Regions from separate parts of the Homo sapiens genome. Here region 1 is reported to be linked to region 2. Evidence: microRNA targets listed by miRTarBase, many of them from high-throughput screens and not tested one by one. Region 2 holds a microRNA gene; the other region holds the end of a gene's coding sequence.

Region 1 (3,272 bases), not on the chromosome of region 2:
AGATTTAGTTCTCCACTATAGTAAATTAATGACAAAAGTATAATTTCTTTGAGTGTCCTCTCTCATCTAATTTTTAAGAAGTCTGGGTAAAACACGTTTTTCTACAATCACTGTTATAACTAATGCCGATCTATTTTCTGAGTACTAGAGTACAACCAAAAAATGGCCTGCATTTATTACTCAAATTATACTTGTAATTTTCACCTGCACACAATTTTATATTTGTAAATGTAGACTCATCACTTAAAACTCAGAGAAGCAAAATTTGACATTGAGGGGAAAGTAATTTGTTCACTTATAGCTACTTTTAAAGTTTAGAAACATAAAATTATGTTAAAAGATGAGTTCTATTCACAATTCTAAGTTTACATGTCAAAGTTAACATGCCCAAATAATACTTTCCTGTAATGGAATGACAACCCAAAAAATACACTCAAAATAATAAACACAAAATTCAAAAAGTAACACAAAATAATCCTACCCCAGCAGTTGTTCCCTAATCTACAAAGTCAGACCAAAGGATTTCTCAACTTTCTTTCAATTCTGACTTTTTTTAATAGATAATGGAATCAAACACTAGTCACCTTTAGCTTTATATTACCTAAGAAGTCACTTATTTTTTAACCTCTCAGTAAAGATACTGAGAGTTATTTAAAAGGTATCAGCTAAGATATTATCTCCTGATCCAACAATCCCACTTCTGGCTATTTATCCAGAAGATTTGAAATCCGTATGTCAAAGAGAAGTCTGCACTCTATGTTCATTGCAGACAAGTCACAATAACCAAGTGATTCGATCAACCTAAGTGTCCATCCATGGATGAATGGATAAAGAAAATGTGGCATATATATACAAAAAAATACTATTCAGCCTTTAAAAAGGAAGAAATTGTGTCATTTGCAACAATATGGATGATCGTGGAGGACATTATGGTAAGTGAAATAAGCCAAGCACAGAAAGACAAATACCACATGATCTCACTTATTTGTGTAATCTAAAACAATTAAACTCACAGAAGTAGAGAGAAGAATGATGGTTGCTAGAGGCCGGGGATGTGGGAATAGGGAGATGACAATCAAAAGATACAAAGCCTCAATTAGATAGAAGGAATATGTTTGACTTTTTTTAGATCTATTACACAACATGGTGAATACAGCTAATAATTAAGCACTGTATGTACATTTCAATACTGTTGAGAGTACATTTCAAATGTTTTCATCACAAAATATGTCAAATATTTGAGGTGATGGATAGATTAGCTTTATTTAATCATCCCACATTATATTCAAAAATCATAATGCCACTTCGTACCTCATAAGTATATACAACTATAATTTGATATATAATAAAAAATTTTTAAAGGTAGTCTCCTAACAATCATATGAGGATTATCCTAAAATGTCCTTTAGTAACTGTCATGGACTGAAAAGTATCCCATGAAGAGACAATGTCTACTCAGAACATGTGAATACAAACTTACTTGGAACATGGGTCTTTGTAAACATAATTAAGGGTCTCCAGACACAATCACCCTAGATCAGGGTGGGCCCTACATTCAAAGACACTGTCCTTAAAAGGTAATGAAAAGACAGAGGGAAAGGCCGTGTGAACGCAGAGGCAGAGACTGGAGTGAAGATTGCTGTCTGCAATACTTAGACAAGATATGCCCATAAGCCAAAGAACTCCAAGAATTGCAGACAGCCACAAGATATTAGGAAACAGACATAGAATGGATTCTTCCTTAGAGCCTCCAGAAGGAACCAACTCTGCTGACACTTTGATTTTAGACTTCTGGCCTCCAGACTGTGAGGAAAATTGTTGTAAGCACCCAAGTTTGTGGTCATTTGTTATGGCAGCCCTGGGAAGCTAATACAATATGTATTTCATAAAGGAAATCCCCCTTTTAAAGGATTATAATCAACACAATTTGTCTTTGGCCATCATACATTTCATATTAGGAATTAGTGAAAGAGCTTCATCATTTCTGGATTGTAAACAATAACCAACAATTTGATGCCTAGACAGACATATATGAGTCTCTACTTTATCATTTACTATCTATGCATTTCTATTTTGACTTAGAATTAAAATTATATTTACTGAAATGTTAAGGAACTTTTCAGTCAAGAATATCACCTGACCATTTGTAAATATTTGCTAACACATTGTTATTAGGTTGGTACAAAAGTAATTGTGGTTTTGCCATTACTTTCAATGGCAAAAACCACAATTACTTTTGCACTAACCTAATAGTTCTCTCTGAAGAGAATAAATTAGTTCTAGTAATATGAAGCATACCCAGTTTTAATAAACTTATACATACAAAACATTCCCAAGCTTTGTGAGGGGCCAACATTACGAGAGCGATATGAGATATCTGAAAACAATTTTATTTTCCCATTATTCAGGCTTTTGAAGCAGGTCTTAAGCTTTCCCAGTTCTTTGCCACTTAATTTCTTACATATGTTTAAAATATATATTAAAAAAACTAATGTAATTTGAGGACCACCACTGCACCTAAAAGAAATTCCATGTTTTCCACCTATTCAGTTGTTCTTTGTAGAAATGGTCTAATTATTAAGTCCATTTTTACAGTTCAAAATATCACTGATATTACCACATAAACCTTTGAATGTCCTGACTATTTGGCCACTGAAAAGTCTTGTTCAGAAAGATGTAAAAAGTTATGAAATTAACAATTGCATAGCAACTCAGTTCACAAACAAGTCTGGATGTGGGAGGCAGAGTTATGTTAAGCCTATAAATGACATAAGGTAAAATGAAGTAACGAAATTCCAGCAGTTTCTGAGGAACTATAACAATGAACAAGCATATGAAAAACATTAAATTCCAAAAAATTGGCTTTGATTTCAATGAGTCAGCTATACTCCAACCAGCAAATATATAGGCTGGAACTAACAAATATTTCAGAATTGCATATCTTTGAAAAACTCTTTTCCACACATAGAAAGTATAATGTCTATTGTCTGCTAGCAAGTATTTATGAGCATAAGTGAATTTCCAAACTAAAAACACAGAGACTAAGGTAACCACCAAAAACAGAATTCCATGTTTCCAAACTAAGGAAAGAAAAGTCTTAATTTTGCTAGGAGACAGGAGATGAGGAAAAGAAAAAAAGAGAGTAAATGAAAAAAAGTAGAATAGTTGAGGAAAATGAAGACAGGCTTCATGACTACTCCGATCGCCAATAACAATTCCACCATTAACTACTACAAAAGCACAAAACAGAAATCCCAGAAGGATGTAGGGCC
Region 2 (3,272 bases):
CAGGCAGCTCACCTGGCCGCTCTCATCTGCAGGGCCCCTCCAACCCCACCTTGGCAGACTTCTAGGGCAAGCTCCCCAGCAAGTAGCTCAGATCTACCCTGCATCCCTAGGACGTCGGGGTCCCTTCCCACGCCACACAGCAGCTGATGCTGCTCTGGCACTCAAGCTTGTGCTTCATTTCCATTTGTAATCTAGGGAAGGCCCTTGCCCCTGTGCTCTCTTCGCAGGAATTCTGAAATGAGCAAGGCCAAATGCCCTCTTCCACAGGCCTTCTAGCCAACCCGTCTAAAGCACCTCCCTGCTGTGCTTCTGCATCCCTGCACCTGCCTCTTCTGCTCCCGTGGTGGCAGGATGGGGAGCAAAACCGAAAAACATCTGGGAAAGAACGCAAAGGAAGACAAAAAGCAAGCAGGACCCTTACCACAGGAAATAAGCAGCTGAAATGAAGGGGGAAACCAGGAGCATTGATCGAGAGCATGGGGAATGGTCTAGTGCCCCAAACAAAAAGTGTTAGGTGCCCACTGGCTTCAGCAACATGCAGGTACTGGGGGACCTTGAAATGATGCCGTTTCGGTGGAGTGGAGATGAGGAAGTCAGCCAGCCTGCAGTGGCTTCGGGAACAAGTCGAGGCAAGAAAGGAAGACAGTGGATGTAGACACTGCTTTCAAGAAATTTGACTGTGAAGGGAAGGAAAGATATGAGATATGGAATGCAGGTGGCAAATGCAGCATCCAGTATTTTGGCTTTTTGGTTGGGGCAAAGGTAAATTCAACACTGATGAGAGCCAGCCAGTAGTGAGGGGAAGGCTAGCAATTCAGACAGCGTCTTTTCTGCAGGAGGGAGGTAGGGTTTTCTGCTAAGAGAGTAAGCAGCAGGGGCAGGAGGATCAAAGGACCCGGGTACCAAGAAGTTTGGAAAGAGCTTCCATGCTTAATGCAGGAAAAGCGGAATGAAGACATACAAGAATTACCAAGGAGTGCTGGATGCGCAGACGGCCTCAGCCAGCACGAATTGACTGGGGCAGTGACCTGGAAGGAGATGGGTGCACCTGTGTGCTTCCCAGCAAATCCCGACTTCAGGGTCCGGTCACAGAAGTGGTAAACCGTCCATGGTGTGGATGACTTCGACCACCTACCACATTTGTCAGTTCTCACCACACCGAGCACAGGAGCTCGAGTAAACACGCTAGCTGGAATGTAAGCTCCAGGAAGGCAGGACGGTGCTGCCCACCATGACACAGCTGAAGGGTCCTTAGAAATCACCTAGTCAAACCACTCCATTGACAAGGAAACCCCCAGTTTGGAGAAGGAGGCCGGAGTCAAAGGCAGACCTCCTGAGCTCCACTCCCAGACCTTTCGCCAGCACGGGGTGACCTCCAACTCCCTCAGAGAACACAGCCCTCCCCCTTTGGCTTCCAGCTGGAGCGTGAATTCCCGAAGGACAGCTTCACTAGATGCCCAGATTTAGGAAAACTGTAAAGCAGAAATATCATTCCATTTTTAAAGCAACACAACCTCCCCACGTGATAGCTATTAGTAAATAGCTCACAGCTGCGAGGAGGGGCTCCAAAGGACACAACACCCTGTGCCATGGGGTTTCCACGAAGATACATTCCTAGGTGTGGGCACGGTACTCCTCCCCTCCCTGCGGCAACGCGACGGGATGGCACCGGCGCGCTCTGGGGTTCGGAACGAGGCCAGCAGGGGGCGGTCTACACCACTGAGTGTTTTCCCAGCTCGGTTTGTTGTTTGGAAGGAAATTCACGTGTGATCAATCACACCTTAAATATCTTCTGTAGCTATAAATATCAAACATATGTTTTCTAAATGGTTTACACTCCTTATCTCCCCTTTTATAAGTTCAATAGTAGAGAGGTCGTGGTGAGGGACAGAGAAGGAACACCAGACCTGGGTCCGCTGAAGAAACAAGCCCAACAGGAAACTGCCAGGCGAGACCGCTCAGTTGCCTCCCAAACACAGATGGAAGACAGGATTTTCTGGAATCACAGCAAAAGAAAAAAAAAAGCCTCAGCTTTGAACATCTCGACAGCAAATTCAATGTCTAGTCTTTATTATTGAGCAAGTTCCCTAAAACTTCAAAGAGGTAAGCACATCAAAAAAGTACTAAGTATGAAACCCTGGGAATATAAACACATAAGAGACATCCTCCTGTCTTTGAGGAACTGATAACAAAGGGGAAAGAAGATACTATCTCAGGAGTGCTCTGAGCGTGGTTAAGGGCGTGATTCATCCCTATTTAATCAATATAGCTAGGGAAGAAGATTCCAACTAAGCATGAAAGAATAGATGGGACTCCAACCAGATTGTGGAGCACTGGAAACCAAGATAGTACATGTAGCCATTTTTAAGTTTGAATAGCAATTATCTTTCTAGTACGTAATCAGGGTGCAAAGCTTATACCCCTCATAAAAGAGTTTACTGAAGTTCAGCTACAACTTCCAGGTCAACACTTCTCCCCAACCAACCCACCTTTTACTTTGTCCCTCCCCCAAGGGGCTCAGGCCCACTACTGGGGGTAACTCAGCAGGACATAAGCCAAAATTAGGCCATCAGTATCGTGCTTTGGAACGGATTTCATTCTCGATTTTTGAATCCCTTGAATCTCTGTGGTATTGTTAGGAAGGATGGTGTCCTTTATATAGCTTTCCATAAAAAGTGTCTGATTTGTCTGGATGTCCAGCACATTTTAACAAACTCAAGCCTCTAGACCTGGGAGCTGGACCATTGCTTCTACAACAAAGGCAAGTCAGACACAGGGATGGAGCCAGTTCCTCTGGTCTCATGTGTGTGGGGGCCTTCCTGTGCCAATGAATCTACCTCTACCACTCACCCCACCCTAGCTGCATCCCAATCAACAGACAGAGCTTGGTGTGGTGGCACCACCTGTAGGCCCAACTACTCGGGAGGCTGAGGTGCGAGGATCACTTGAGTGCAGGAGTTGGAGGCTAAAATGAGCTATGATCATGCCCCCCCTGCACTCTAGCCTGGGCAACATGGAAAGACCCCATCTCTAAAAAATAGATACAATACAAAACAGACACCAAAAAAGAAGCACCAGAATTTACTTTGTTCTAAGGGATATAGGCTTTGTCACTTCAACAGTCAGGTCATGGGAGTTCTCAGAAAGTGTTTTGACATTTGCTCCCTAGCAGAGGAAAGTCATTTGTGAAACTATTTTTAAACAGCAAAACTAAAAAGGTGGGGTGCCATCTCAGATGCTCATTAGACATTGAGTCCAGAGCTGCTTTGGGG

What was found. The annotated mature microRNA hsa-miR-7153-5p reads UGAGAACUGACAAAUGUGGUAGG and lies in region 2 at 1,131-1,153, opposite strand. An mRNA with a match to its seed (bases 2 to 7 or 8) in the 3' UTR can be bound and repressed. Matches are read on the target gene's strand: a 7mer-m8 pairs with bases 2 to 8, a 7mer-A1 pairs with bases 2 to 7 and ends in A, and an 8mer does both.
Region 1: the mRNA of ALG10B is a reported target of hsa-miR-7153-5p. The part of its 3' UTR that is shown has no 7-base or 8-base seed match.

The regions. Positions count from the first base shown.
Region 1 is chr12:38,320,555-38,323,826 of GRCh38, reverse strand. ALG10B (ALG10 alpha-1,2-glucosyltransferase B) reads right to left here. Exons shown (of 3, transcript NM_001013620.4): 3 at 1-3,272. The coding sequence ends at 2,614. Among named protein-coding and RNA genes, the nearest start is that of ALG10B, 5.4 kb to the right of the region's middle.
Region 2 is chr18:11,653,789-11,657,060 of GRCh38, forward strand. MIR7153 (microRNA 7153) reads right to left here and starts at 1,153; the gene lies at 1,097-1,153.